Linked DNA regions of Homo sapiens: all the other regions are reported to be linked to region 4. The links are microRNA targets in miRTarBase. Many come from high-throughput screens and were not tested one by one. Region 4 holds a microRNA gene; each other region holds the end of a gene's coding sequence. Distances are from middle to middle.

Evidence for each region. The annotated mature microRNA hsa-miR-4480 reads AGCCAAGUGGAAGUUACUUUA and lies in region 4 at 5,064-5,084, shown strand. An mRNA with a match to its seed (bases 2 to 7 or 8) in the 3' UTR can be bound and repressed. Matches are read on the target gene's strand: a 7mer-m8 pairs with bases 2 to 8, a 7mer-A1 pairs with bases 2 to 7 and ends in A, and an 8mer does both.
Region 1: miRTarBase lists SMU1 as a target of hsa-miR-4480. The part of its 3' UTR that is shown has no 7-base or 8-base seed match.
Region 2: miRTarBase lists NSA2 as a target of hsa-miR-4480. Seed matches in the 3' UTR shown: 8mer at 5,615-5,622.
Region 3: miRTarBase lists A1CF as a target of hsa-miR-4480. Seed matches in the 3' UTR shown: 8mer at 2,414-2,421.

The regions. Positions count from the first base shown.
Region 1 is chr9:33,041,158-33,048,916 of GRCh38, forward strand. SMU1 (SMU1 DNA replication regulator and spliceosomal factor) reads right to left here. Exons shown (of 12, transcript NM_018225.3): 11 at 6,949-7,101; 12 at 608-6,234. The coding sequence ends at 6,136. Among named protein-coding and RNA genes, the nearest start is that of DNAJA1, 20 kb to the left of the region's middle. RefSeq lists an enhancer at 2,826-3,327 and a silencer at 3,182-3,501.
Region 2 is chr5:74,775,115-74,782,873 of GRCh38, reverse strand. It overlaps NSA2 (NSA2 ribosome biogenesis factor), which reads right to left. Exons shown (of 6, transcript NM_014886.6): 6 at 2,761-6,270. The coding sequence ends at 6,203. FAM169A (family with sequence similarity 169 member A) reads left to right here. Exons shown (of 13, transcript NM_001376049.1): 13 at 866-5,300. The coding sequence ends at 1,414. It also overlaps the pseudogene RNU6-1330P. Among named protein-coding and RNA genes, the nearest start is that of NSA2, 12 kb to the right of the region's middle.
Region 3 is chr10:50,800,124-50,807,882 of GRCh38, forward strand. A1CF (APOBEC1 complementation factor) reads right to left here. Exons shown (of 13, transcript NM_014576.4): 13 at 1-6,757. The coding sequence ends at 6,606. Among named protein-coding and RNA genes, the nearest start is that of ASAH2B, 64 kb to the left of the region's middle.
Region 4 is chr10:12,573,733-12,581,491 of GRCh38, forward strand. MIR4480 (microRNA 4480) reads left to right here and starts at 5,021; the gene lies at 5,021-5,091. The region is part of intron 2 of CAMK1D (calcium/calmodulin dependent protein kinase ID); the gene reads left to right.

The sequences.
Region 1 (7,759 bases), not on the chromosome of region 4:
GGATGTGTAGGTTATATGCAAATAACCATCTTGTTTTATATCAGGGACTTGAGTACCCTCGGATTCTGGTATCCATGGAAAGTCCTGGAACCAGTACCCCCATGGATACTGAGGGATGACTATACAAAAGGAATTAAAAACGAATGAAGGCCGGGCGCGGTGGCTCATACCTCTAATCTCAGCACTTTGGGCAGCCTAGGCGGGCTGATCACCTAAGGTCAGGAGTTGAAGACCAGCCTGGCCAACGTGGTGAAACCCCGTCTCCACTAAAAAGACAAAAATTAGCCGGGTGTGGTGGTGGGCGCCTATAATCCCAGCTACTTGGGAGGCTGAGGCAGGAGAAACGCTTGAACCCAGGAGGTGGAGGTTGCAGCGAACCAAGATTGTATCATTGTACTCCAGCCTGGGCGACAAGAGGGAGACTGTCTCAAAAAAAAAAAAAAAAAAAAAAAACTCGTATGGTCAGTGTTTACTGTGCATTCTCAACAGCCCAAAGTGGAAACCTGACTGTCCACCAACAAATGGTTAATGTGTACCTACAAATCTCTCAATTCTCAATATACATGTGTACATACACTGTGAAATACACAGCCATTAAAAGGAATACTTTTTATACTTCCCCCAAATATGAAGCACTTTACTGTTTGATACATGGATGAACCTTTAAAACATGCTAAATGAAATAAGCCAGATAAAAAAGGACAAGTATTGTATAATTTCACTTATATGAACTAAACTTAGACAAATGCATTGAGGCAGAAACAGTACCAAAGGCTGAGGGGAAGGGAAGGAGAAGTTAATTGACAATGTTACAGGGCTTCTGTTTAGGGTGATGACATTTTGGAAATACAATAGTGGTTGCGTAACATCGTAAATAATGCCACTGAATTGCACAATTGTTTAGGAAAATTTGTTACATGTTTTACAATTAAAAATCCTAAGAACACTAAAAGAAAGTCATATTAGGTCGGTTGGTGCAAAAGTAATGTGCCATTACTTTTAATGGCAAAAACCGCAATTACTTTTGCACTAACCTAATAGTTATATCCTGAAGAGGCAGAAACTGATAGGTTTGTCTGTGTAGTTTTTCAGCTTGTATTATTACTACCACTAACAGCCTCTGTTGAACCCTTCATTACTATGTAAGCAGCCATATTTAATTCTCAGAACAATGTAATGAGGGAGAGCCTATGAAAAAACAAAGCCTATGAAACAGAGCCTATGAAAAAACATTAACCAAGGTCATCATCCACAAAAATACAAGTTCCAGCACTAACTCTGCTTTCTCTGTGATGCTTCTCCTGCCCATTCATACTTGTAGGGAATAGGAGTAGAGGCCAATTATGTCGCTTGAGAGTGCTCTTGGAACAGTGGCAAATTTTCTGTACGTGAAATTAGCTTCTCAACTTTTTTGTACGTACGGTACTGGTTCTTAACCTTGGCTACCATTGGAATTACCCGGGAAACATTAAAACACTCATCAGGTCCCACCCTCCAGGGATTCTGTATAACTCGGCTGGGTGTAGCCTAAGCATCAAAATGATTATGCGCAGCCAAGGTTGAAAGCCACCAACACTGACACATGGATTTAATATTAACCACTTGGAACAGAATACCACTGTTAAAATTGCCGTGGAAGGTTAAATAATGGGCAGCCCTTGCTATTCCAAGTTTGGTTTTTTTGTTTTTTGTTTTTGAGACCAAGTCTTGCTCTGTCACCCAGGCTGGAGTGCAGTGGCACAGTCTCAGCTCACTGCAACCTCTGCCTCCCGGGTTCCAGCTATTCTCCTGCCTCAGCCTCCTAGGTAGCTGGGACTACAGGCGTGTGCCACCATGCCCGGCTAATTTTGTATCCTTAGTAGAGACAGGGTGTCACCATGTTGGCCAGGGTGGTCTTGAACTCCTGACCTCGTGATCCACCCACCTCGGCCTCCCAAAGTGCTGGGATTACAGGCTTGAGCCACCGTGCCCGGCCTATTGTAAGTTTTAAACAACCTCAGACCAGGGAACTTCCTCACTTGGACATACACTTCATAGCAATTTCTTCTCTTAAAATAGTGGAAAATGAAGCTGTAAAAGCACAGTGAATGAGAACACTAGCAAGCTATGGCAATTTGAAAAAATGTGATTTTAAGAGTCAGTCTTGCACCTTTATCATTTAAATTTGGTTATCTCAGCATGAAACTTCTGAGACTGACAGCAAGAATTAAAACACCTTTTGTATATGCGGAAACTACCCTGTAGTCTACCTGCTCTCAAATTTGAGCACGCTTGCTGGGCCCCACCACCAATTTCTGATTCTGTAGGTCTGGGATAGGACCTTAGAATGTGTCTATCACGTGACACTTGTAAGAACCACTGTTCTAGCACAAGCCAAAAGAAGTGACAGCAAAGACTGACATCCAGAATCCTCTAATTCAGTTCTCTCTACTCATCTCACTACCTGTGCTCTGCTTAGGTGAATGTGTTTGCAGCATGTGGAGGAACAATCCATGTATTCTTTGTCCCTGCCCAAACCTAAAGATTGAGGAGGAACTGACAGCAATATTGAGAGTGAGGCAAGAGAGAAAAAAAACCTAGCTTCGGAGTCACATCTGGTTTTCAATGCGAGCTTCGTGCAAGTTGGACTGAGTTAGGTGCCTCACGTCTGGAAACCTGTTTCTTCATGTGCATTTGCGCACCCTCATTACATTGTTCTGAGAATTAAATATGGCTGCTTACATAGCAAGGAAGGGCTCAACAGAGGCCGTTAGTGGTAGTAATAATACATGCTGAAAAAAAACAACTGGTGAAGAAGATACTGAATTGTACCTGAGATTTATACCATTTGCTGTTAAAAAAAAAAAAAAAAAAAAAGCCATACTACTCCCAAATACCTCCGCGCAATGTTTTCCAGTCATTAATTCAACAGCAGAATAGGGGATAGGACAAATGTCCTTATGCTCATGGAATTAATTTTAACGCCAGGTAGTTTAGCTTCTATGTTAAGTGCTAGAGAGCAGCATCCGTTAAATCTGGTGGCTGCAGCAGAGCACTTCCCTAGGAACCGACTGCACACGCCCAATTCAGAAGGAAGTGAGCACTGATTCCCGGCAGCCAACTCCCGTTCGCGCAGCCGCTGCCACCGGCCCTTAAGACGATGTGACCGCCAATTTTGTAACAGTGACGTCACCCGACGTCTGCAGGCCCTGACAGTTGGCTCTAGCGGGTGCGCAGTCTCCCTACCCCCGGTAAGGGGCTCTACCGGCCCTGGACCCAAGATGGGACTCCTACCTCCGACCACCCGGAGCAGCGGCGCCCCAGATCCGGCCGTCCGCCCTGCGCGTGCGCGGCCCGACCCCGCCGCGGTCTGGCTGTAAGGGCGCTGGAGGGGAGCTGGGCTGCCCCAGCCTTCAATGCTGGAGGGACGGCCGCGTGGGGCTTCAGAAAGGCTAGGCGCCGAGGAGTGTAAGCAGCGTGTGCCCATTTAAAGACAAAATCAGTGTGTTTTTCAGGTTTGTACGAAATGAAGTTGTAGAAAGATTAACAAGGGTTACCTGGGAAAGGCAGATTTTCAACTTAGCGTTTACATGTTCACCCAGTGCATTATTTTATTTAAAAAGAAGAAAAATATATACTTAACGGCTCCTAATCCAGCTCTCTTTGCCTGGTCTCCCAAGACACCTATCATTTTGCCCAGCACATACCTTGCCGCTGTGCCACACTGGAGTCCCCGGTTAGGTTCCCTGTGCTTAGACCGCCCCCTAGTCCCTCCAGGAAGCCTTTCCCAACCCTTTCGCGTTAACTGCCCGCCTCATCATCACAAAGGTAACTTGAGCTTTTATCAGTTTTAATTACTCCTTTTAATTTGCTCTTCTTCCCTATGTTTAGGCAGAAACGAGTCTTTTTTTAACCATATTCATCACCTGGTGCCAGCAACAGAAGTGTTCCCTAAAAATTCCTAGAATAAACCAACACGTGCTGACTAGATTCTCCATCTTCATAAACGGTGATACAAACTATGCACATCATAACTACCAGCTTCATGAGGTCAAGACTAAATCAAAAATTCTCAAGGACTTTTCTAAAAATTTTTTTAGCATAAACTGTTTCCTCTAACTTAAACTTCTCTTAAGTGAACGTGTCTTTCCACTGGGATGACTGTCTACATGCTCAGGAATCCTGAATTCATGACTATGTTCAACTCCCACGACCATTTTTAAATCATCAAAATGGCAGCAAATGTCATTACCTGGACCAAAAAGCTGCAGGTTTTGTGGCAAATGGGAAATGTGTTATAGAATATGACTGGGAAAGAGGGATTTCTTAGTGCTGCCCAGAATTAATTCAGCAAACACTGAACATTACTACGTGCCACATATAGGATCATACTGCATTTCAGGTCACCATCAAAGGTAAATTACAAGGCTGGGCGCAGTGGCTCATGCCTGTAATCCCAGCACTTTGGGAGGCCAGGGCAGGCGGATCACCTGAGGTCAGGAGTTCAAGACCAGCCTGGCCAACATGGCAAAACCCCCGCTCTACTAAAAATACAAAAATTAGCCAGGCATGCTGGCATGCGCCTGTAGTCCCAGCTACTTGGGAGGCTAAGGCAGGAGAATCGCTTGAACCTGGGAAGTGGAAGTTGCAGTTAGCTGAGATGGCACCACTGCACTCCAGCCTGGGCAACAGAGCAAGACTCCATCTCAGAAAAATAAAATAAATTTTTTAAAAAGGTAAATTACAAGACTGCAAAACTTTTTAAAAAAACCTTCCCCACTAGTTTGTACCTAATAAATGCTAACATTTAAAAGGGGGCACAAAAGGCCTGCAGAAATAAGAACTCACGTTCTTGAAAGTACTGCCTAGCATGGTATCTTCCTCATCATCAGAGGTGCTCTATACATCTTCAGTTGAAACGTGAAACAGACATCCATATGCAAAATATTTTCAAGGGTTTTGTTGGCTTTTACATGTTTTTCTTTAGATAACTGGTAATGATGCACATTACAAAGGAGACTTTTCTAAATCTCAAGTCCTTTGCTAATTTTTCTTTGGAACAACAGCACATTTTCAATGCCAAACCTTCTCCTACAACATACAAAGGGGAGATGCCAAAACTCTGAATTCTTGTAACGGATCCTGCAACTAGTTCTATCCAGAAGATGGAGACAATATTCCCTGGAGTTGACTGAACATGTGAGAAGGCACAGCTCAGAAGGAGAGGAAGGCTGAGGGCAGTGAAATGAGAACCTATGCATCACCTGGCCTTTTTACATGTTAGTCTATCCTACTATCCCAGGAATTCACTTCTGCTGTACTTGAGATTCAGGGATAATAATGTGACTCCTCCTCCCACATTCTAAGTAAATATGTTAACTAGATGAGCATTTATGTACATTTTAGAACAAAGTCTCCAGAAAGGTATAAAGTTTATTAACATCTTTAAAAAAAAAAAAAAAAAAAAAGATGGGCCGGGCATGGTGGCTCACGCCTGTGATCCCAGCACTTTGGGAGGCCAAGGCGGGTGGATCCTTTGAGGTCAGGAGTTTGAGACCAGCCTGGCCAACATGGTGAAACCCCATCTCTACTAAAAATACAAAAAAATTAGCCAGGCATGGTGTCGCACACCTGTAGTCCCCAGCTACTCGGGAGGCTGAGGCAAGAGAATCGCTTGAACCTGGGAGGCGGAGGTTGCAGTGAACCAAGATCGTGCCGCTGCACTCCAGCCTGGGCAACAAGCAAAACTCCATCTCAAAAAAAAAAAAAAAGATGGAACAGAACACAGCTACTGAATATGATATAGTTCCTTATTTACAAGTTTTACTATGGGAGGGACATTTTCCTCAGCATTTCAAATAATCAGAGGAGTAGAATTTTTTTCTAGAAATATCAGTATTTCACTCTCCAGGTCGAAGATTAATGAAAACATTAAGTGACTGCACCAGTTAGAAGAAGATAAACTAATACCTTAAAAATATATAAAAAAAGAAAGGGTAGTTGCTACTTAAACATGAATTTTCACAAAATTATTCTGTGACTAATTCAGACAATCTATTTGCTTAGAAAAGCTGGCAAAAAAAAAAAAAAGCACATTACATGAATATGCTTCATTTAAGTACATGCTTTCGAGCTGATTTAAAAAGAAAAGTTGAATTATGGTTTCCAGAGCTTTAGGAGTCCATCTTCACTGTAGGTAGCAATCAGGTTCTGATGAGGGTGATGTGCAATACCAATCACATCCTTCTCGTGCACCTGGAACATGTAAAGCACAGGGTTAGGATGTACAGATCTGCAATAAATCACTCTGATGAGGCTTCCAGAGGTGGGTGGAAGGGAAAAAGAGATCTTGGGAGGCCACATATTCCAAATGGCATAGGAGAAAGATGGAGGAGGGTTTTCCAACTCACATCACATTGTGACATAATAATAAACTTTAGGCTGGGCGCAGTGGCTCATGTCTGCAATCCCAGTACTTTGGGAGGCAGAGGCGGGTGGATCACTTGAGGTCAGGAGTTCAAGACCAGCCTGGCCAACAGGGTGAAACCCCGTCTCCACTAAAGATACAAAAAATTAGCCAGGAGTGGTGGCATGTGCCTGTAGTCCCAGTTACTTGGGAGGCTGAGGCAGGAGAATCACTTGAAACCAGGAGGCAGAGGTTGTAGTGAGCCGAGATCACACCACTGCACTCCAGCCTGGGTGACAGAGTGAGACTCCCTCTCAAAATAAAATAAAATAAAATAAAAATAAACAAACTTATATAGTGTTAAGCCACCGAGATTTGGGGATCATCATAGCAGCTGACATTAATTTTACTTCTTGAATTTGACATGGAGCTAAATGTTTTAAAACAACATATTTTATACTGAGGGTCACATCGATAGCTCTGGAAAAGGCACATACTTCAGAGTTCAGAAAGACACAAGTCCTACCATATTTCTTTAGATGAACTTAGTAAGTAATACTCACTGTCAAAGTTCTCTCCAGTTTGCCAGTGACTGTACTGAAACAGTAGAGCACAAAGTCCTCCCCTACACAGTAGATCCATTCACCACGGGGAGAGAGGGCACAGCAAACAAAGTCCCCACCTTCTCTTTTACCAGAACTGAAGCTTCTGACAATCTAGATCACACCACACCCCAAGAAAAAAACATCAGGATTAGTAGCAGCTCAACCATGTGCAGCATTTTAAACTGACATTTTTACGTTGTTATTTTGCACTTTGGTTTACTATCATTTGTAATTAGATCTCCAGTCCTGTTCATCATGTGCTAACTCCCCTTGCCTGGGAAATATTCAATAGATAAGTAATCTAAACTAAGTGGCAGACAAAAATTTAGAATTCATACATCCCACGTCACCAATCATGCCCTAAAGAGACATATTACCCTTAAGCAAATTTCATTGCCATACAAAAAACAATTTTCTAAATCAATATACCAGTATTTCTCAAAGCTTTCTGGATGTCTGCTCTCCAGTTTCCTCTAACAGAATGAGAAGCTTTCCCCATACAGGATGACACTCAGTCTCTAAGACTTTGCTTGCTCTATTGATACATTAAAATCATCATAAACCAAGCTGAGAGAAACCAATCTGAAAAGGCGAACAGTTTACATACTATATGCTTCCATTTCTATACCATTTTCAAAATGACAAAATTATAATAATGGAAAACAGATCAGTGGTTGCCAAGGGTTAGGGCTTGGGATTAACCTGAAATTTAAAACATGATACCATTTACATTAGCAGCCCCAAAGTGAAAATACTTAGGTATAAATCT
Region 2 (7,759 bases), not on the chromosome of region 4:
AGGAGGGTGCATGGTATATATATTTGCTTCCACCTTTACATGTACAGTGCTTTAGGAAGATTAACTTTTATACTAGATTTGATATTATAAGAAAATCAGTAATATTCTATAAATTCAAATAATAACCTTATTCATATCTGATATGTGGTAACAAAATGAGTTTTATTACTTTTAATACTTTGTAGTTAGGAAATGCTTAGAAAATTGGATAAAGCATTATTTACCAAATATTTGAGTACCTATATTTGTTACATAGACTATGACCAAAACAGTAATTTATATTTGTTTTAATTAGGCAGACAGATTAGGTTAGTGGGGGAAAAAACTTGTTGGAGTATTTTAAAAGAAATTTAATTTTGTTACTTTTGAATATTACAACTTATGGCTAAAAAACTGTTGTATGGCATTATTAGTGTCTCACCTAAGCAAAAGAATAAAACTTCCATTGCCCTAACTTATCTAATGAAATCGTAGTCAAACGTAGTGTGGTAGCGCAGTGAAGTCCCAAGGTATTTTTGGTTCTGGCTCCAGTAACACCAGGAAACTAAAAAAACTGAGTTGATTCATGGTTTTAAAGAATCTTGATATGAAGCTTAATGTGTCTTAATTATGAAATAATTATTTCATTATATCCTCAAAGTAATAACTTAGTATTAAAATTACCATGTGAAACAATTTTGAAGAAATTGAGTTGTATTCAGAATATATACACATATAGCAGAACAGAAATTCAAAAAAATACTCGATTTTGAGTAATGAATACCGAATTAAATTCTAGTTCAGTGTCACTGCATATTAGAGCCTGAGAATTTATTTTTAGAACTGTAGTACAAGTTTATTTGTTGACCAGGTTTTTAATTTTCAGACCCCACGTATACCTGACTCAGAAATGTTGATGGATGAAGGCACATCTGATGAAAAGGGGCACATGGAAGAGAAATTGTCCCTACTTCCAAGAAAGAAAGCACATCTTGGGAGTTCAGACAATGTTGCTACTATGTCAAATGAAGAACGATCTGATGGTGGTTTTCCAAACTCTGTGATAGCTGAATTTTCCGAAGAACCGGTCTCTGAGAATTTGTCTCCTAATACTACTTCCTCATTGGAAGACCAGGGTGAGGAGGGGGTATCTGAGCCCCAGGAAACATCTACTGCTCTTCCTCAGAGTTCTTTGATAGAGGTTGAACTTGAAGACGTGCCATTTTCACAGAATGCAGGACAGAAGAATCAGTCAGAGGAGCAGTCTGAAGCATCTTCCGAGCAACTGGATCAGTTTACACAATCGGCAGAAAAAGCTGTGGATAGCAGCTCAGAGGAAATAGAAGTGGAAGTGCCTGTGGTAGACAGGCGGAATTTAAGAAGAAAGGCCAAAGGGCATAAAGGACCTGCTAAGAAGAAAGCTAAGCTGACCTGAAGGAAGAAGAAAGTGGATGATAAATCCTCTTCTTTGTAACATAGTTGTTGTTTTTAAAATATGGTAATTAATAAACAGCATGGGGCACAGGACAAAAATTTCCAAAATTTCAATTTGAACTTACTTACTATGCAGTTTTTTGCTTCCCTTTAGAACGTAGAATTCACCATTGTTTTTAATTTTCCAGGCTATTTTTGGTAAATGCAATTTTTTATTTTTATTAACCATGTTTCAATTTTGGGAAACCAGATCATATTATATTTTCTTTATCAGGTGGTACATCTGACCATTATTTCAAAAATATAATTAAAAAGCTGTGAAAGTAGTAGGATTTCCATTACTTATAAGGATCACAGAAATCTTTTATACTAAGGGTTTTAATAGTAAAACTTGGTGAGGGTTCTAGAAGTTTTAAATTTCAAAACTAATCACCAATTTTTTAAAATGTAGGCATGCCTAAACAAAAATAAGTGTCAATAAATTAGAAAAAATATAACTTCAAGTAAATGAGAGCACAAAAACAGAAACTTACGGTCAAAGGTTCATGAAGATATTTTGGTTTTGGCCTCTTAATCCTAGATATAGATGCAGTTTTTTCCTTTGACTTCACTATCTATGGAAAGGTACACATAAAATCTGTTTCTGATTCATTCTATCATCTGATGTTAACAGTACTGTCAGGGATTTAACTGTGGCATGTGGGGACTAATTATTTAAAATTTCATTTGAAGTATTAGTTTGCTGTAATTTTTTTTGTCTGCATATGTGCAGACGCCTAGAAGTTTAGACTTTCACCTTTAATCAGGTAAAAATCACAACTATACTTTGGAGACATGGTTTAATTTGGACTTCTGGTCCTGATCAGATAGATAAATTAAGCTGGAGATTTTACTTTTATCCCAACCCAGTTAACATCTATATTTCAGAAGTATGAGGCTCCTTCCTAAGGCATCTCCTTAAATCTTGCCACCTCCCTAATTCTACAGTCTTATTTATATTCCCCCACAGCTTTCATCTACTTCTGTAACTCATGGAGTGATTCTCCAATCAACAGATCTTCCTGCCTGCCGGCTTATGCCCTTGATGTCCATTTTTGGGTAGGTTTGGAGGTGCACCCCACAATGTTAGACCTATATGGCAGGAGTAAAACTGCCCCCAGTGTTAGACCTATATGGCAGGGGTAAACTGCCTTTGGGGGAGCTGTGGTTACAAGGGCTTCAATCATATTGGAGGCTTCAATCATCCTTTGATTTGTACTGAGTACTGGTTGCAAGCTGGCCTGTTAAGTATATATTGTGTTGCCATAACAAAGGCCTAGGAAAATTTGAAGAAAAAAAACACTGAACTGTTATTTTTTGTAATTTATTTAAAAATGGACAAAATGGTTATTAGAATCCAAAGATAATCTAAAAACAGTTCTACTCTTTGGAAATATTATGTGTACTCAAATTTGCACTTAAGTTGGAGAATGTTTTGAGACCATTTAAATTGTTTTAAAAATAGCTTGATCTTGATCCTTATGCAAAAGAAACTAAGACTTTGTGTCATTATTTGAGGTAGCTAAGGACTGATGTTGAAAGTGTATTCAGTCTATAGTAAGCTGATGTCAGGTCAGTAAATTTTGTTTGGGGATGTTGGTATTTTCGATCAAGTTAAAATCTTAAAGCAGACAAAAATAGTAAACGCTCCTATTTGTGTTAGATTTTGAACAATTGTATTACCCTATATTTTCTTTAATTAGTCAAAGGTAAGCCAGATTATTTCATTCTAAATGAAAATTAAAGCACTTTGGCCATTTATTTTTTCAACAAATGCTAATACTAAGTAAAAAAAAAAAAGTATGACTACTATTAGTGAATCTACCAAACATTTATGCTGTTTTATACATTTTATGAGAAACTTCTGTCAATATCACAAAGGGAAATACTCTGTTAAGATTCAGTAAATTCTTAATCTTTACATGTTTCATTTCTTAGATTTGAAAACACTTGTAGATATTTTATTTTTACTTGGATTTGTTTAAAATACTTTCTTTTCAAATTATTTTAAACATGGAAACGCTTCATGAATTTGTGTCATCCTTGCACAGGGGCCATGCTAATTTTCCCTGTATTGTTCTAATTTTAGTATATGTGCTGCCGAAGTGAGCACTAAAAGACTTTCTTTAGACAAGTGTAGTTTTTTAAAGATTGAGCTCACTGGCTCAACTCTTGATGTGTGAATATAGTTGAGTTTACAAAAAATGTTTATTAATCATATATGACCATTGGGGGCTAACAGTATAAACTTATTCTTGTTAAACTTGTTTGGGTTAAATAGTAAGTGAATTGTAAACAATTTAGAAGTTTTTTGTTCAGCACACAAGAACACTTCTGTTACAGATTCTCTCTGACAGAAATTGTTATTTTGGGGTTTATAGATTATAGAGGGAAAAGTTAGATCACTTGGAAAAACCTAACTCTCATGTTCAGTAACTTGAGTATAGAATTTATACCACAATTTATCTTCAATAAGGAACCTACATGAACTTAATCAGTTATCTGTAGTTTTTGCAAGGCATTAGAAAAAATTTCACAATTACAGAGGACTGAAAATGTGATTTCAACCGGCTAGTCTAGTTGTTGAATGTCCAGTCACATTACACATAGTCCTTTGTGAACTTATTTGTGAAGGGAGTTCACTTTTTATGTACATACGTGTATATTTCCTTGTGTAATATAAAGCAGATGGTTATTAGTATTTTAGTTCTTTCAAGTTTAAATTATTCAATTGCTAGACATCACAGAAATTAGTATATTTAAGAATTTATTATAAAGCTCCTCTACAACTTTTAAAGGTGAGAGGGTCTATTATGATTTTTTTATAAAATCAAACAGCATGATTTAGAACGTCAGTCTTCTACTTAAAATGTGTCTATATTCATGGTATTTCCATTCAGTGTAGATGGTAAGGAAAACATCTAGTCATTAAAGATTTACTTATAGCAGACTCCAGAACACTACCTACAATGGGGTTTCAGTGACTAGAAATCTTGAAGGTTTATGATTGCATCAAATTGAGCCTGTACTAATATCTAAATATCTGCTCTTATGTTCTGCTTTATCCCTTGGGATTACCTTCTAAGGTTTGGTCACACCAGCAAACTGAAACAGATCTTAATGTACATAAAAAATTTATACTAATATTACTCATCTGTGTTACAGTATTTTGAAAAATGTTTCAGGTGTCATCTAGTCGTCTTTCATGGGTGTGATTAGTTACAAATGTTATGCTTATGTTTTCATACTTAATATCAAGCTTTCTTTGTACCTTACAAGATAGTATTTTTGGTTCTAAAAAAAACAAGCAAACTTCATTTTTGTAGTATCCAGAAATTACCTGGAGTCAGTATTTTTATTCGCCTTCTAGAACTTGTGATCCACACATCACCCATTTATATTAGTGGTAAAATTATCTGCTAAAATCTAATTGTAAGAAAGGCTTACCTTCTGTCATCAAGTGATTGTATCATCCTGGATCGTCATTTCCAAGGAACTAGCCTTTCTTTTCCTAAGCGTCTGTATGTGTTCTAAAACTTCCAGTATATATTTATAGAACTTAGAAAAAATGTTACATTATTCAGAGTAGCAAGTCTTACTGGAGTACCTATGTTTGTTTTCTTGGTTTTTATTTTTTTTTAAGTTTAAAAGTAGTAATTAAACCTATATTTTGTGATTGTTTCCTGGTCTGTGTTTTTAAATTCCTTTCCTTCAGTTTTCCTCATGAAGATGTTTCAGATACTGAATTTGTTTAGACATTGAATGACTTTGTTAAAGGCACAATTAATCACATTGGTTGTACTCTGAAGACAGACTTCTTTAAAAAAAAAATAAACAATTTAAAACAATGTGGTGATTATAGATTAATGTAATATACGCCATCCTTAAAACCACAACATATAACAGATCACAAAAGTGCTTTCACCAAGTTACAACCGTAAATCCTTACCTTTTTACATCATCTAAGTAACTGCAAATAAATTTCTCCTCAGGGAATCAGTGCAGTCTTCTTTTTCCTTTTAAAACTTAGCTGGAGTTACTTAAACTAATTCTTAATACTATTCTGAAAGTATAAATATATTGTTTAGAATACAGAAAATGCTAAGAGAGTACAAAGACTTTAGTATATTTTTTTCATTTTCATGATTCAAGTAGAAAATAGTGCCAAGTAGGTATTATTATACATGGTAAATGAGATGAAAAAAATGTTTAGAATGTGAATTCACTAGACCTTTGCTGTACTGGATTTCACAGGTGAAAAGATTTCTCTAAGATTTCTGAACTTTTAGTGTCTTCTCACATACTTCTAGTGTAAACAAACACTATAAACTTAACATCTGTATTAATGCTACCTACCTTTTTTAGGATTAATGATTAACGAGATTTTGAAGATACTTCAGTTAAATTCTCAGACACATAATTGTGTATTAACCTTTTTGAAAGGCATTTTCAATGAACACTGGTGGTTTTTTCAGGAAATTGCTGAATACCCACTCACAAATGCAGATATTGATGAAGTAGGATATTTGTATATTTGCTTTTTTTCAATCATTCAGTTTTATGAACATGGGGTCAAAGCGTATTTCAAAATAAAGACCATTTATAAAACTGGACCACTTTAATGTTTACAATTTAATAAATCTCTTCATTGCAGACATGTATGGCTGTTTGGTAGTATTCAGAAACATCACAGTAATGGCAGTTTCTTCAATTGGTGTGTAGTCCTCAATAATTATATATGAAATTGCTGTCAAACCAGTAAGACTGCATTTATACATCCATCATTTTCAGGATTGTTGGTAACCTGGGCATATTTTCCTAAGGAAAACAAAACCAAAAAAGGGAAAAGGGAGGGTTGTTAGCTAATAAAAATTAATTTTAAAGAATATAACTTTTGCCTTTTTTTTCTTTTTGTCTTAATACAGGGTTTCACTCTTATTCCCCAGGCTGCAGTGTGGTGGCGTGATCTGGCTCACTGCAACCTCTGCCTCCTGGGCTCAAGCGATTCTCCTCACTCAGTCTTCCGGGTAGCTGGGACCACAGGCACACGCCACTGCCTGGCTAATTTTTTTGTTTTTGTATTTTGTAGAGATGTGGTTTTGCCATGTTGCCCAGGCTGGGCTCGAACTCCTGAGCTCAAATGATCCGCCTGCCTTGGCCTCCCAAAGTGCTGTGATTATAGGTGTGAGCCACTGCGCCCAGCCATGCCTAAAATATTTCTAATTACCACTTTCAATAAATAAGAAATGAACCATAAAGGATAAATGAGATTTTACAAAATTCAATCATTTAAGGACAAATTTGAGTTCTGAATACAATTTTCATACAAATAGTGTTTTTGCAAATAATGGCCAGCTCCATGTTATTAGTACATTGCATTAACAGGCTTTTGTGGATTGACCTGAGCATTGTCACTTTTTCACATAATTCTTCCTGGAAAATGTATCAAGTTTCAAATGAGTTTCAAGTCAAGGTAACAACATATTTTAAAACTGAGGTCAGCTGACATGAAGTATAAACCAATGACTGAAGAAGTTGTAGCGTGTATTCTTCCCTTTCAAAGAAATTGGATCTGGGTACTAAAGGTAGAAAACTAAGCAAATGAGGGCGTTTAAAATTACTGCATGACACATTTCTGTTTTAATTATTACTGATCTAGTGTGATTATATGTTGTATGCCTCCCTCGGCTCATGGTTAATTTATTCTATTTTTTTTTTACAATTTTTTTTAGTTATAACTTTGCATCTGCTTCCCTTGTAATAAAGAATTTTTATTAAAAAAGATCAAAATATTTTTATTTTACTTATTTTTGAGATGGAGGCTTGCTCTGTCTCCCAGGCCGGAGTGCAGTGGCATGATCTCAGCTCACTGCAAGCTCCAGGTTCATGTGATTCTCCTGCCTCAGCCTCCCGAGTAGCTGGAATTACAGGCACCCACAACCACACCTGGCTAATTGTTTTGTATTTTTAGTAGAGACGGCGTTTTGTCATGTTGGCCAGGCTGGTCTCCAACTCCAGTCTCAAGTGAACCGCCTGCCTCGGCCTCCCCAAGTGCTGGGATTATAGGTGTCAGCCACTGCGCCCAGATAGCGAGGGGGCTTTTTAAAGCCTGGAAGCTTCTACATGATTTCTGAGACCTGTTAATGGGAATTAACAGAACGAACTAAACTGTGTTAAATCACTTTCAATTATTATTATTACTTTTTGAGACAGAGTCTCGCTCTGTCATCCAGGCTGGAGTGCAATGGCACGATCTCAGCTCACTGCAAGCTCCACCTCCCAGGTTCAAGCGATTCTCCTGCCTCAG
Region 3 (7,759 bases), 38 Mb from region 4:
TTTAGAAAACAGAAATAGTTAATGGCCAAAATGTTTTCAAGTAAATAAAATGTATAGGTACCTGCTCATTAACATCATAAATCAGTAGGTGAATTTATCAATTCCATGTTTTAATTCTCCTTCTGGACCTCTAACTAACCTTTTTCTCCTTCTATTTTTGCATAGTCCTTTATATTTCTCCTGGGGGAAATATTTGAAAACTCATTTTACTTAAATAACCATAATAGGTGAAGTGTTAAATTCACCTTTTAAAAGGCTTATTGTATCAGTCCAGAGTTTGGCAATAATAGTGGAAACTTAAGGTTTAGAACAGAGTTGATTTATTTTCAGAATTCTAAGTGGCAAAACCTATCAGGTGTTGCAATTATATTCAATTTTGAAAAATGCAGAATGGACCATGGGACTGTGTGCCCCAATTAAAGAGAGAAGTAGGAAATATATGTATTTGTATTCACAGTTTCTGGTATAAGAGTAGGTGCATAGTAAACACAGGCTGATCATATATTCTCTGAAGAATAGATTTGAGGGTTAATAACAATAGAGCCTGTAAAACTTGTTTAATTTCCAATGTTAGTGAAGAGAATAGAGGGAGGGAAAAAGGGAAATTTTATGAAAAAGGAAAATAATCTCTCAATGTTATTTTCCATTAAAAATAATAAAACCTTTATATGACGTGATGTGAGGATTTTTCGTGAAGAATGGTTGATGAACAATCATAATGATGAAATCAAATGCAAGGGAATTAGTGTTGGAGCAAATTTGTGAAGCAGAAGGAAAAAAGGCAATATCCTTTTTAAGGTGAAGGTTAACGTAAGACCTGTCTGTTTTGGGATAGAAGTAACTCAACTCAAGGAAGAAAGAAACCAATAAATGCTCTAATACCCTACTAGTGCCCTGTGGATCTCTACAGACCAAGCAAGTGTCCCCAAGAGCTATCTTTTGTCTTGCCCCACCACCTAACCTGGCATAATAATGACTAGCTTGCTCTGCCATATGAAGGCAGAACTCAGGACTCACAGCCCAGGGGTTATGAGAGGAAAACTAGGACCAAAAATAGGCTGGGTAGAGAGATAGTTGGACAGAAAGTGGATTGATGGAGATTTCAGAGGAGGAAGTGATCCATTCTTCTCTGTTTACTATGACCCTGCTCAGTCAGAAAGAAGTAGCTAGGCTCTTTAGTTTAAGCTGTTATCTGCTTTGGAGAAGACAAAGCCAATTCTACAAAATTAAAAACAACAAGAAAACAACAACAACCCATAAAGATGGTGGGGTGTGTGTGTGTGTGTTGGGGGCAGACACTGTATAATTTGTTGTCTAAACTGGGACACGTTTGGAAATAAGAGGGATCATTGTTAATATTTATAGAAGGACAGCAGACCTAAGCCAGGACTGTCCTGGAAAACCAGAATGTATTGTCACCTCAGAGAGACATTGGTAAACCCTGAATGGGGCTGATATTCTTCATTCTCCAAGAAGGCCTGTGGGCAGCTTACTTTTTTAAAGATACTGTTTCTTGGTATCTCCTATTCCCTTAGACAAAGTATCATTTGTGGAAAGAGAACAAGCTGTATTCTTCTTCTTGAATTTCTCTCTCAAAATAGGAGAAAAGTCTGTAAGGGGGAGGTAGGTACAGAAGAATTCCATATTTTATTCCAGGCATCTTCAGATGAATGAGGTATTTTGGTTTTCAGGTTATTTTCCCTTTCTAAATTGGCTATGAATTTCATTATTAGTGAGAGTACAAGGTTTTCTTTTAGCTTTCCTACAAAACCAAGGAGAACTGGGGGCACATAAAGTTTGCAATCTCCCACAAATGAGCCTACATATACATTGCTATCTATATTAAACCTATGCATTCTATTTTCTGTATAAACATTGTTGGACAACATGGCTTTAAAAATGTTGGACATTTGGAGGGCAATAGAGTATTCTGTACCCATTTTTCCTTTAATAAAAAAAGCTTAAATATTTTACTTTTTAAGAGAGGGAATGGGAGTCAGAAAAATCTCATTTTCCTTAGTTTCACTCATTATAGCGCAACTTACTTTGTTTTTCTAATGTTGGCAAACACAAACATAGAGCCTGGTAGATACATTACACTTTCTATGAATATGTTCTAGTAAAATTCAGAGCATTTTCAAGATATTATTTGGGCAAACTAAAATTTCAAAATCAAATTTGACAGTTTAACAAAACCTGATTGACAATGGTTGCACGTCAGGTAGGAATATTTACTGCCTAGTTTCTTCCTGTCTTCCAATAAGTATATACAAAATCTTAAGTTATCCTATTAACATTTTCTTTTTAAAAATATTTATCCAAAGTTTCCTTGTAGTGCTATGTTAGAAACTTAGTTTTATCTTTAACAGATGTATTTACAATATATGAAAGTGTATCTACAATACATAAAAAGTGCCAAGTTTCTAGTCTAATTTTTAGATATATTTTCTTCCCCCTGGGAACTTTTATATGAATGCAAGAAGAGAATAATCATGACTTTATGTGAATATTGAGCACATAGTTCATTTTTTGTTGTAAGTTACTTTTAGGAAATCTTAGTGTTAGAGTTGTTCAATAATAATATACTTTATCAAACTTCATAGGTTAGAATGCAATGAAAATTTACCCCGAATATTAACTTGATTGCCCTTTATTCTACAAATGGCACACCTAAGAACCTCCCTGTCTATGTGGATTCTAACTGTGGCCCAGTTGTCCAAGACAGAATTATAAAACGGTCATTTAGAATATAACAAAAATTAATAAAAATGGAACATTATATTGATGCAATATTTTGCTAATCTATGCAATCAGAATAACATTTTTTCTAAAAAATACTTTTAAGTAAAATAAAAACCAATTTCCTGCACAGCTATTATCAGTATATACTTATAGTTTAATTTCTATTCCATCATGAAAAAGTTAAGAAACTGTGGTTTGGAAACAGGTTCCTTTTTGTTAGATATTTATTTTTGCTTTTTTGGAGACAGGGTCTTGCTCTGTCACCCAGGCTGGAGTGCAGCGATGTGAACATGGCTCACTGCAGCCTTGCCCTCCAGGCCTCCAGCAATCCTCCTGCCTTAGCTTCCCAAGTAGCTGGGACCACAGGCCCACGCCACCACAACTGGCCAATTAAATTAAATTTGTTTTTTTTTTTTTTGTAGAGGCGGAGTCTCTCCATGTTGCCCAGGCTGGTCTTGAACTCCTGGCCTCCAGCAATCCTCCTGCCTTGGCCTCCCAAAGTACTGGGGTTATAGGCATGGGCCACTGTGCCAGATATTTTTTGAAATCCATATTTTCTTGACATGAGGTAGCTTTTTAGCAGCATTTCGGGTGCTGTTCCCCAAACATAGTGTTGTTTGGCATGATACCAGATTGGAGGATATCCTAGTCATCTAGGAGAATTATATTTTGTTGCAGTTGAAGGTGCTGTTCTAGATATACTAATGCAGTGGGAGAGAAATAAAGCAATTTGAGAAGAGGCAGCACTTTTATAGGAAAGAAAATAGATACCCAATCCCATTGCTGATCAATTTCCTCCTACTTAAGCAACATTAGGCTGATTTTAATTATCAATAAGCTATTAATTACCAAAATTTAGAGAACTAATTCAAATTTACTGGATGTTCCTAAATTATTGTTTTGTTATTATCACCTGGTTGGGTGACAAATTTTAATTTTTTCTGTAAAGAATTAGGAAGCATTCAAATAAGAAATTACAGAAAAATTGATAGTGATGCAGAAGGTATGAAGGTATTATATAGGTGCTAATTTCTTAAGTCTAAAAATATAAACCTATGCAAAATTAGCCTTTGGTTCTACCAGCAATTTAAAAAAGCCCGTTGTCTTAATAATTTTAAACTTATGGTAGCAGGACTTGCTCTATCTACCTAACTTGGGGAAAGTAAAAATAAACATATGGCATGGTAGACACATTAACACTTTCTATGAAGGTATTTTAATGGAATTCAAAGTATTCCCTAGATATTACTAAAACAAAGTAAAATTTTAGCAAAAAAACCAAAACCACTTCTACCTACTTATACAAAACTGGCTCTAAAGAGGTAAATGGTGTGATAACTTGAGATGGTGTTCCAGTGGTAATTTTCTCAATACTTTGGTATTATTGTATGTTTAGGTGTCTGCTCTTAATATTGTAAACAAACAATTATGACTTTATCCAGAATAATGATTTTTTCTCATAAAAAGATTCATGTATTAACTAATCTTTTCATTGCGATTAAATTTAAAACTTCTCTAAATCAAACCTAATTTGCATTGACAAGACATCCAGAATACCCTTTGCTGTTTATTTGCAAAGATTTTAAGGAAAATCAGAACTTTTGCTCCTAGAATTTGGAATGCTTTTTAGACTCAGTAGAAATTTGCCTGCCCCAATGGACATTTGTTATGTCAATGTAATCACTGTCTTTGAGAATAAAAGCAGATCTGTAGGGGAGTGTAAATTTGGATCTAAGAATTGTTTTAGGACAAGATTGTTTTACTTTCTCATTTTTAGAGTTAGTTTGAAGCCTACGTAAGTTACATTTAAATTCATACTATTTATGGGATAAATATGATTTGGCTATTTGTCTTAACTTAGATGATTTTTTAATTGCATTTTTCTATTTACTAAAAGTGAAATAAAAAGGAAAAGAAATAAAGAGATAGAGTATAAATACAAGAATATAGCAATTCCCAAACCTAGGTGCACATTGAAATCACCTAGGGATCATTAAAAAATACTGATGCCAGGCACCCATCCAAGGAAATTCTAGTGTAAATTTTATGAGATATGTTATTGGCATTAGCATTTAAAAAGCTCTCCAGGAGATTCTAATGTACAGCCTACTTTGGGAACTACTGTCCTAGGAAATATTAGACGCTAAATGTAAAGTAGAAAGCACAGGGCCTTTCAGAGTTTCAGCTGTAGCCTTGGAGGCTTTGTTATCTCATTGGAGTTAGGACAACTGAAATGTTACAAGTACTTCTGATTGTGATTAAAATTTACCTGATTTTGATTAGAATCTGGCCTGCTTTTTGATCACAGAATTCCATTAAGGAGTTGACAAAATTTTCCATGTCTTTGTGTTTATGTTTTCCTTTGTGTTCTGTAAATTTTTTTAAGGGCCAAGGGATTTTAAAAAATGAAAATTCTAGTACTGTGTCTTAAACCACTAATGAGATTGATGTAGGAGTAACAGGTATTTGGTGTTGGACTTAAGATTATTTATGTTTGAACAAAGCAATCATTTACAAGTATGGCAAGAAAGTAGTGCCTTCTCTTTACCTCTGTTCCGTGTTTTGTAGCACCGTTGCCCTCCCCTCACTTCATCATCAGATATTTCTGGAGAAGAGGCCTAGGACTCTGGGGGGAATTTGGTAAATAACACCCATGCTGATTGTCTGAAACAGTTTCTAATCAGCAATGATTGCTGTAAGATTTTTCTGTGGCAGCTTCAAGACAAAAGGACTCAGGTATGGTGAAGCTGCCTGATACTTACTGAAACAAAAAGGAAGGAAAGTTAGAGGATTTCCTGGCAGATTTAAAATAAATGGGTTAGATAATGCAAAGCTAATCCCAAGTTAATATAAGCATCTCTGATTGCTAGATGGTGGGGTGGATACTGCAACAATATCAAAGAAATGAGAGCAAATCTGCACTTCTCTCTTTAAAATGACTTTTCAGTCAATTTGCTGAAAGGAAGAAGTATCATAAATGATATTCTGTATATCTGATTTACTTTTTTATGATATTAGGTAGGAGAAAAATGAGTCTGAGATGATGAAAATCAAGCAATATGAACAAGTCAAAAAATTTTAAAGTAGAAAAGGTCATTTCATGCTGGCATGATTATTGGAAAAGGTAGGAGTTCTAGGGAAAAATAGGTGTGGACTAATGAGCTGAATAAACAATGGGGCCTGGATTTGTTTTAACCACATCTACAACATATCATATCTATTTCTAGGAAGTCCCCATGGGCTGCAGGGGACAGGAAGATCCTGATCTGTGACAAATCGACTGGATGGAATTTTCAGGCTGAAGAGAGGTTGAAACCACAAAATCTTGGACAGTCTTTCATGAGCTCAGGCCTGCAATCATGCCCCACACAGTGAGCCATGGTGAATGCATTTTGAAAAGCAACCTCCTCCCTTCCCTTTTCCTCTTTGTGACTTTGTGTATCACAAAAGCAGCTGTGAGCCAGAGGTAAGACTCTGGAGTTTACTTGGCTTCCCTTGATTATTACTGACTGCCCAGGTCTGCTCCATCCCTCCCAAATCTTGCCAGCTACAAGATCTCTCTTCACCCTGGCAGGATTTGTAAACATACTCCCCAAACACTCAGGAAGACTGGAAGAACAACTTTTGGGGCAGTGGCTCTCCAGCTTTCTGTTAAACAAAAGGCTCTTTAACATTTGATTTCATTTCAGAATAACGTTCTTACTTCATGATTCTATAATTGGTATAAGCTATACAGTCTCTGGAAAGGCATTTCTTTAGGAAACATATTATTTATGATCATTGGGGACCGAGTTAGAGGTTTATTTCTTTTTTTTTTTTAATAGAGTTTTGTGTGTCTTATTCTTAAATTTAAAAAAGCATCTTCAGAAGGTGCCATATCCATCCCCTCGGGCAGTCACTGCAAAAGTTGGGTAGACCTCATAGGTTGTATATGCTGCTAAGTCTTGTCCAAGGGTTACCGCTTGCTTGAGCTGGGCTGCAGACACGGGTGCAGTTGCATTAGGGACAGCATATCCTGGAGGAAGAGGCAGAGAAAACTTGATGAAAGGAATTCACATTTGCTCCCTTTTGGCTTATTTGTCTTCTTTTAGAAATACGAACATTTAACATATTGCTTAAAGCTAAAAGTTAATATATATGTTTTAAAAAGTGTCCTTAAGGACACAATATGTGGACTCAGTGATTTTCAATGATATTTAAACAGTCCTAGGACAATGTTCCCTAAAGTGGGGTCAACCACCTGTGTCAGAATCACTTTATACTTAAGAGAATTAAAGATGCTTGGGATAGGGTCCAAGAAAGAGAAACTTAACAGGATACTGAGTTGATTAAAGCTTGTGATTTTTAGCGTTTTGAGGGTCTCCAAATTTATAAATGAGAAAAGGTGACTGAGGGGCTGGCTGGGCATGGTATGTGGGGAGGTGGGGATCTGTGGGACTGGTTCTCCTGTAACCCCACACCTGCCTAAATGAAACATTTAAAACATTTGCCTTTACCCAAGAAGATGTGTAAAGACTGGGAGATCAGTAGGAGAAATACTGTAAAGGTTAAGTGTGCTTTTCCATAATACCTTAAAAGCAAATGCCTAACCTGTCCATATTTACATGTAACTATGAATGGCAAAAGCACCTTCTTACCTCCCAAGCCCCTCATCAAGCCTGTGCTTGTTGTATTCAGAGGCCTTGATGCTGGTTCTCCGCCTCAGAGAACCAAAGTATCTGAGAATTAAAAAAATAATCTATGCGCTTTCATGTTAGCATTGTGTCTAGTGGATGAGCATTCACTTTTGAAGAAGAGAGCATATTAGCTACTATCTAAAGCATTATTTCTCTGTATTGTTTTAGTTTAAAACCTGAGTATTTCTGAGATTATCCAGAAATTGTAAAAGATAGCAAGAAAAAGAGAGAAGTATACTTAAGTACAAATGGGCACCTATTTTTCATTGTTGTTTTAAACCCCATTTAGTTTATGTGCAGTAGAAGCCTGCCCAACCCCAGACACATTGATTTTTTTCTAG
Region 4 (7,759 bases):
AGCCTTGAAACTTCTGAGCTCAAGGGATCCTCCCACCTCAGCCTCGCAAGTAGCTGGGATTACAAGCACGTGCCACCATGCCTGGCTTATTAAAAAAACTTTTTTTTTTTTTTTTTTTTTTTTTGTGGAGATGGGGTCTCACTCTGCTACCCAGATTGGTCTCAAAGTCCTGGGCTCAAGTGATCCTCCTGCCTTGACGTCCCAAGGTGCTGGGATCGCAGGTGTGAGCCACTGCACTTGGCACCTTCTTTCTTTAAATTATTTATATTGTATTTTTACATCTGCAGCTGTACTTCCTCACTTATCCACTCATTCACCAACCCCTTTAGGACTTGTCTTTTGACCAACCATTGTACTGAAACTGTTTCTTTAAAGACTTGACAATGATTCTTGAGTTGCCAAACATCATAGCCTTTGCAGAATGCAGAGTCCCCATGACTGTTCTGAAACACTGGGCCCTGTTGACCACTTCTTGACCACCAACCCCTTCTTAAAACTCAGATTCTTTAATTATGACATTGCTTAAGTACATTTGCCTCCCTCCTTCCCTAGGGGATCTTTCTTTCTGTTTTGTCCTTTTTTTTTTTGAGTTGGAGCCTTGTTCTGTCGCCTGGGCTGGAGTGCAGTGGTGCAATGTCAGCTCACTGCAACCTCTGCTTCCTAGGTTCAAGCGATTCTCATGCCTCAGCCTCCTGAGTAGCTGGGATTACAGGTGCACACCACCACGCCTAGCTAATTTTTTTTTTTTTTTTTTTTTTTTTTTTTAGTAGAGACGGGGCTTCGCCATGTTGCCCAGGCTGGTCTTGAACTCCTGGCCTCAAGTGATCCACCCACCTTGGCCTCCTAAAGTGCTGGGATTATAGGTGTGAGCCACTGCATCTGGCCTGGGATTCTTTCTTACCTCCTTTGCTGACTTCTTCCTCCTCGTGTTAGTCTGTTCTCACACTGCTATAAAGAACTACCTGAGACTGGGTAACTTATAAGAAAAGATGTTTAATTGGTTCATGGTTCTGCAGGCTGTACTGCAAACATAGAGGCTTCTGCTTCTGGGGATGCCTCAGAAAGCTTCCAATCATGGCAGAAGGAGGAGCAAAGTGTCTCACATGCTCCTCAGGAGCAGGAGCCGGAGCGTGAGTGAAGGAGGAGATGCTGCACGCTTCTAACAACCAGATCTCACGAGAACTCACTATGAGGAGAACAACACCAGTGGCATGGTGCAGAACCATTCATGAGAAACCGCCCTCCATGATCCAATCACCTCCCACCAGGCCCCACCTCCAACACTGGGGACCACAATCCAACATGAGATTTGGTGAGGACACGGATCCAACCCCTATCACTCCTATTTTTTTCTTTTTTCTTTTTCTTTTTATTTTTTGAGATGGAGTCTCACTCTGTTGCCCAGGCTGTAGCGTAGTGGCACGATCTTGGCTCACTGCAACCTCTGCTGCCCAGGTTCAAGCGATTCTCCTGCCTCAGCCTCGCAAGTAGCTGAGATTACAGGGTCCTGCCACCGGGCCCGGCTAATTTTTATATTTTTAGTAGAGATGGGGTTTCACCATGTTGGCCAGGCTGATCTTGAACTCCTGACCTTGTGATCCACCCGCCTTGGCCTCCTAAGGTGCTGGGATTACAGGTGTGAGCCACCACACCCAGCCATCACTCCTGTTTCTTAGCTGGGGACATTTAAAACAATTTGATATCCTGTCTCCTTTGCTTTCCAAATGTCCATCTCTGGAATCCCCCTTGGTTTGTCTCTCACTTTAATTTGGAGGACGTCCAGGGCAAAATCTCCAGCCTTCATGTCTCTCTAAAGCAGTGGTCTCCAAAGTGGGTAGACAAGATGGTCCATTGGGATGCAGAAAGAAAATGGTAGCACTTCCACTTATAATTTGATCTTTTAGAATGAGGAGGAAGTTAAGAATCATGAGTATTGTTTTGGATTGACAGTTTGTCAGGCAGACAGTCACAAGCCTGTGACTCATTCCCAGGGACCCGTGGACCCCCCAAGAATTCGCGCTCCTCTGCCTTGAGCTTAAGAAGACAGTGGTGGTTTGCATGTGGCTGGTTAAATGGATTTGTGGGTTGTATCCCCTAGTGTTACCTAAACCAACCTTCACAAAATAGACCAAGAATTTAAGAAGATTCCTGGAAGGAAACCATGGCTTGAAGATAATATTAAAAATGCAAGCGCAAGCACACAAGAGGATAATGAAAGAGCTCAGATTTCTGCTCCTGGGAGTTCTTTGTCAGTCATGTTACAAGGATAAAACAATTTAGTAACAATACAAATACAAATGAAATATTCAGTTTCATTGATCTCACTTAAAATACTCTCTTATTCATAACATTTTTCTAGTGAAAGCAAAAATGTGAACTGCATTGTTCCTAAGTAAAATAGTTTATTTATGTTGTTTCTTTGATCGAATTATTTAAAGTTTTAAGGCTGTGTAAGTTTTAAATTTACATAAGATATGAGTGCAGTGGTATCTCTGTTATAATTTATAAATTAATGTATCTATTTTGGGGGTTTTGTACCTGAGTATTTTGTACTGAAGGGGGCACATAGTTAACACAGTTTGGAGACTATTATTCTAGAGCAGTGGTCCCCAACCCTCTTGGAACCAGGGATTGCCTACATGGATGACAGTTTTTCCACTGACCGGAGGAGGGGGAGGGTGATGATATCAGGATGATTCATGTGCATTACATTTATTGTGTACTTTATTTTTATTATTATTACATTATAATATATAATGAAATAATTCTACAACTCACCATGATGTAGCATCAGTGGGAGCCCTGAGCTTGTTTTCCTGTAACTAGATGGTCCTACTTGGGGGTGATGGGAGATGGTGACAGATCATCAGGCATTAGATTTTCATAAGGAACACACAACCTAGGTTCCTTGCATACACAGTTCACAATAGGGTTCATGCTCCTATGAGAATCTTTTGCCACCAATGATCTGACAAGAGGCAGAGCTCAGGCGGGAATGCTCACTTGCCTACCACTCACCTTCCTGGTGTGCGGCCCGGTTCCACGGCCTGGTACTGCCGTTCTGGAGACTCGGCTCTGTATTTCTAGAGCTTTGTAGACAAATCCATGCTGGTGTCTGGCTTGGTCCTGTGCATGTCAGTCAGTGAGCACACCTGCATGCCGTCTATCTCAGAATGGAGAGCTGGAGTGTCTGGCAGAAAAGGAACCACATCTCTGCGAGTGACACAGAGCCCCAAAACCCAGCCTGGGGAAAGGGGTGGAGAGAGGCCGTGGAACCAGTTCCAGAACACTTTCACGTGCATCTTGGTTTCTAGCACGGACTGGGATGCCTTTGTTAATATGTGCCAGGCTGGGGCACTTGCAGGAGGTGACGGCCACCTTGACTCTGTATGCTGAAGCCCTCTGGTCACTCACCCATGTATGCTGCAGTCCCCCCGGCCAATAACACAAGCCAGGACAAGCCCAGGGGAGGTCCCCGGACACACAGCGAAAATTCCTGGCTGGTTCTGTATGTCGCCGTGTTGGGTTCCCAGCCCAGTTCCAGCTCTAGGCTTGCAGGTCTCTCACTAGGAACTATGCCTCCAGCCCTTTGGTGGATTAACACCTGCCACCTCCAGTTCTGAATCTGACCTCTCCCTCTAGGCCTCCAGCCTGGATCTACCCAGTTCTGGATTCAGATCGTTACAGGCCCAAAGCACTGAAACATTGCAGAGCACATTGCTTTTCTTCTTTATTTAAAGAACTAAATTAAGCATTTTAAACCATATAATAAATGTAAAGAGATCCAACAAAGTTCTGTTTCTGCCATTATTACTATATCATGGCTATTTCGGAATGATCAAATAGGAGATTTTTTTTTGTTTTCAAAAAGTCTCTGTCTTTCTCTTTTGTTGTCTGTATTTTGCTGCTAAGCCACCAGTTCTCGATTGGTTCACTCCCTCTTCCTGCTACAGATTGTCTTAGGGGTTCTATTCATGAGACTTCTGGAGACCTAAACCCCACTCCGGCCAATGCCCCATAACGGGGTATGATGCTTGGCTGACATCGTTAACTCAGCCCCTCCAAGATTATGCCCATTTTCCTCCTTCCCCACCCACGTGGTGTCCTCCTTGTTACCTTTGCTAATGTCATTCCCAGGATCCCAGTTATCTACGTAAAAAATCAAAGATGGAATCTCCACCTATTCATCCAATCATCCATGCAGTCAACAAATTGGTATTCAATGCTAACAGTAATATTGGCTAACATTTATTAGGCAAGCACAGCTGCCAGCGTTTATATTTGCATTATCTTACATCCTCACAGCAACTCTGCACGGAAGGTATTGTGATAGTCTGCTTTTTATTTATTTATTTATTTTTAGACAGGGTCTTGCACTATTGCCCAGGCTGGAGTGTAATGGCACCATCATGGCTCACTGCAGCCTCGACCTCCCGGGCCCAAGCGATCCTCTCACCTCAGCCTTCCAAGTAGCTGGGACTACAGGCATGCACCACCTTGCCTGGCTAATTTTTTAAAAAATGTTTTGTAGGGCTGGGCACAGTGGCTCACGCCTGTAATCCCAGGACTTTGGAAGGCTTAGGCAGCCAGCACTTGGGGAGGCTTAGGCGGATGGATCACCTGAGGTCAGGAGTTCGAGACCAGCCTGACCAACATGGAGAAACCCCGTCTCTACTAAAAATACAAAATTAGTTGGGCGTGGTGGTGCATCCCTGTAATCCTAGCTACTCGAGAGGCTGAGGCAGGAGAATCGCTTGAACCCGGGAGGCGGAGGTTGCTATGAGCCGAGATCGTGCCATTGCACTCCAGCCTGGGCAACAAGAGCTAAACTCCATCTCAAAAAAAAAAAAAAAGTTTTGTAGAGATGAGATGTAGTCTCTCTAGTTTGCCCAGTCTGGTCTTGAACTTCTGGGCTCCAGCAATACTTCTGTCTCAGTTTCCCAAAGTGCTGGGATTACAAGCATGAGCCACTGCACCGAGACCGATGACCCACTTTTAACAGCTGAGAAACCTGACCATTGCAGAGGTGAGTTGACCTCCACAGGGCCACCCAGGGAGTAAGTAGCCAAGTGGAAGTTACTTTACCTCTGTGATGATTTGCACCAGTTCAGTTTGACTTTAGAGACAACAAGCTGAAGCTCTACACTCGATTGACTGTTTTCAGGTGCTATGTGAACACGGTGGGTAGAGACGCATAGCACATGAGCCCTGTGCTGGGGAATGTGCAGTCTAGTGGGTGCCCAGAGGCACGAGCAGAAGACAGCAGCCCTTTAAGAAGTGCCATATGCTTCAAGGGCATAGGGAAGTGTGTCTGCTCCAGGGAAGGGGCTTTCACCGAGAAATTGAACAGAGCTTCAAAGAGCAAGAAACAATTGGCTGGGTGGGTGTGGGAGCGCGAGGAGTCCTCGGAAGGCGCCTGAGTGAGGCTGTGGGTGTGGAACAGCATGGTATGGGCAGGGAACAGCATCGTGGCTGATGCAGGATGAGGGGAGCATTCCTCTTCTTGTTCCACTTCCTGGGTCTGCAGTTACAGAGTCCTGCATAGCATTCCTCATATCTTTCCCTTCCTTTCCTTTCCTTCTTCTGAATCCTGTGTTGGGCCCCGTGGCCTTATCTCTGGACAGTTGCAGCAGCCTTTTCTCTCCACTTCTTCTCATCCATCATGTATTACTTAAGCCAATTTAATCATGTAGCTTTCTTTGATCATCTTGTTCTCTCCATTAAAGAGTGGCTCTCCATTGCCTTTGGAATGTGGTCAGACCATTGAGTCTGGTGCTCCAGGCCTTCTGTATTTGGGGGTCAGTCTGTGTTTCCTGCTGGATCTTTCATGATGTGTCTGTCTCTTCCCACTGGAGCAAACAAAAATAACTTTCTCTTCTCTCCATCTACTACTCTTTTTCCCTGTACCCTTTTCTTTCCCTACCTGTCAAAAATCTTGACCATCTCTCAAGCTCGCTCCAGTGTTACGCAAACATGAAGCCTTCCGGACCAGACCAGTCACAATTGTCTCTCTGTGCTCTTAGATGCCTTCACTGTGATGGGGACCGTGGGCTGCACCACCCTTGTCATGGTTCACACTTCTTAAGCGAGAGGTCGGATCTCTTCTCTGGATCTGTCTCCATGAGTTCCCACCAAGATAGGTTGGAGATTCACGGAGTGGCTTTGAGTTTCAAAAGCCAGTTTTGAACCTGCTTGTTGCCCTGGCTCAGGTGGAATTCTTTAGAAAAGTGTCCACTCTCAGCCAGGGTGGAATCCTTTAGGAGAGTGTCTGCTCTAAGCTTTTTCCCTTGGCCTCCACTGGGGCGTTTTTCCTTCAGCAGAAAACCCATGATGCCATCTCCTCTGGGGAGGAAAATACTGCTCTGTGGAACCTCGCAGGGCCTTTCGGCACAGCCAGAATTCCCTGGTGAGAGGTTTCCTAAAGGGTTAGTCATTCAGACCTGGCTGTGTGAGCCAGATCTGTCCTGTCTTGAGATAATTCTTAAGGCTACGATTTGCTCGTCAACATCATCTGTAACTAGTTTCACTAACAGATGTTTAGGAATTGGGCATCTAGGCTGTACCAATGTATCTGGACTAAAATATGCCCCTCCCTCCCTTCCTTCCTTTTTTTTTTTTTTTTTTTTAATATAGCTTTAATGGGAGACTGGAGCCTGCTGTTTCTCACCCCTTGTCTCCCGGGTGACAGTATTTGGTGTACAAAGCTAGTGACTCTGCAATTGTTGAATTAGCTACAGATTAACTCCTCTGAGAACTTGGTTTCCGATGAGAGTGAAACATGTACTTTGTATGCAGAACTCTTACTCTTCAAACAGGACTTATTAACTAGAAGAAACTTCACTTTGTACTTGAAAAATGGAATGTAAATCATAAAAGATTGTACCATTTAAGCCCCACTAGAAAGAGAAAAACAGAAGTCATGGAGAACCACATCCTGTTCATATGGACCCCAGCCTAAGAAGAATGCAGGAGTGTGTGGAGAGGGTCCTATGGGGAACCCCAGGAATGGCCAATGGTGGGAAATTAGGTTCTGGGAAATGTGTGTATTGTTTTGAAAAGTATTATTTTACCTGGAGAAATTGAACAACTGACATCAGCTAACATATATTTATTATTGTGTTGAATGGCCAGCATTCTGTGGGGGCATTGTGCTTTTTTCCTTTATTTTATTTTCATAGGTTTGGGGGAACAGGTGGTGTTTGGCTACATGAATAAGTTCTTTAGTGGTGATTTCTGAGATTTTGGTGCACCCATCATCTGAGCAGTGTACACTGTACCCAGTGTGCAGTGTTTTATCCCTTACCCATCCCCACCCTTTCCCCCAAGTCTCCAGAGTCCATTGTGTCATTCTTATGCCTTTGCATCCTCATAGCTTAGCTCCCACTTATGAGTGAGAACATACGATGTTTGGTTTTCCATTCCTGAGTTACTTCACTTAGTATTATGGTCTCCAGTTCCATCCAGGTTGCTGCAAATGCCATTATTTCATTCCTTTTTATGGCTGAGTAGTATTCCATGGTATATATATACCACGATTTCCTTATCCACTCGTTGATTGATGGGCATTTGAGCTGGTTCCATATTTTTGCAATTGTGAATTGTGCTGCTATAAACATGCATGTGCAAGTATGTTTTTTGTACAATGACTTCTTTTTTTCTGGGTAGATATCCAGTAGTGGGATTGCTGGATCAAACAGTAGATCTACTTTTAGTTGTTCAGGGAATCTCCACACTGTTTTCCATAGCGGTTTTACTTGTT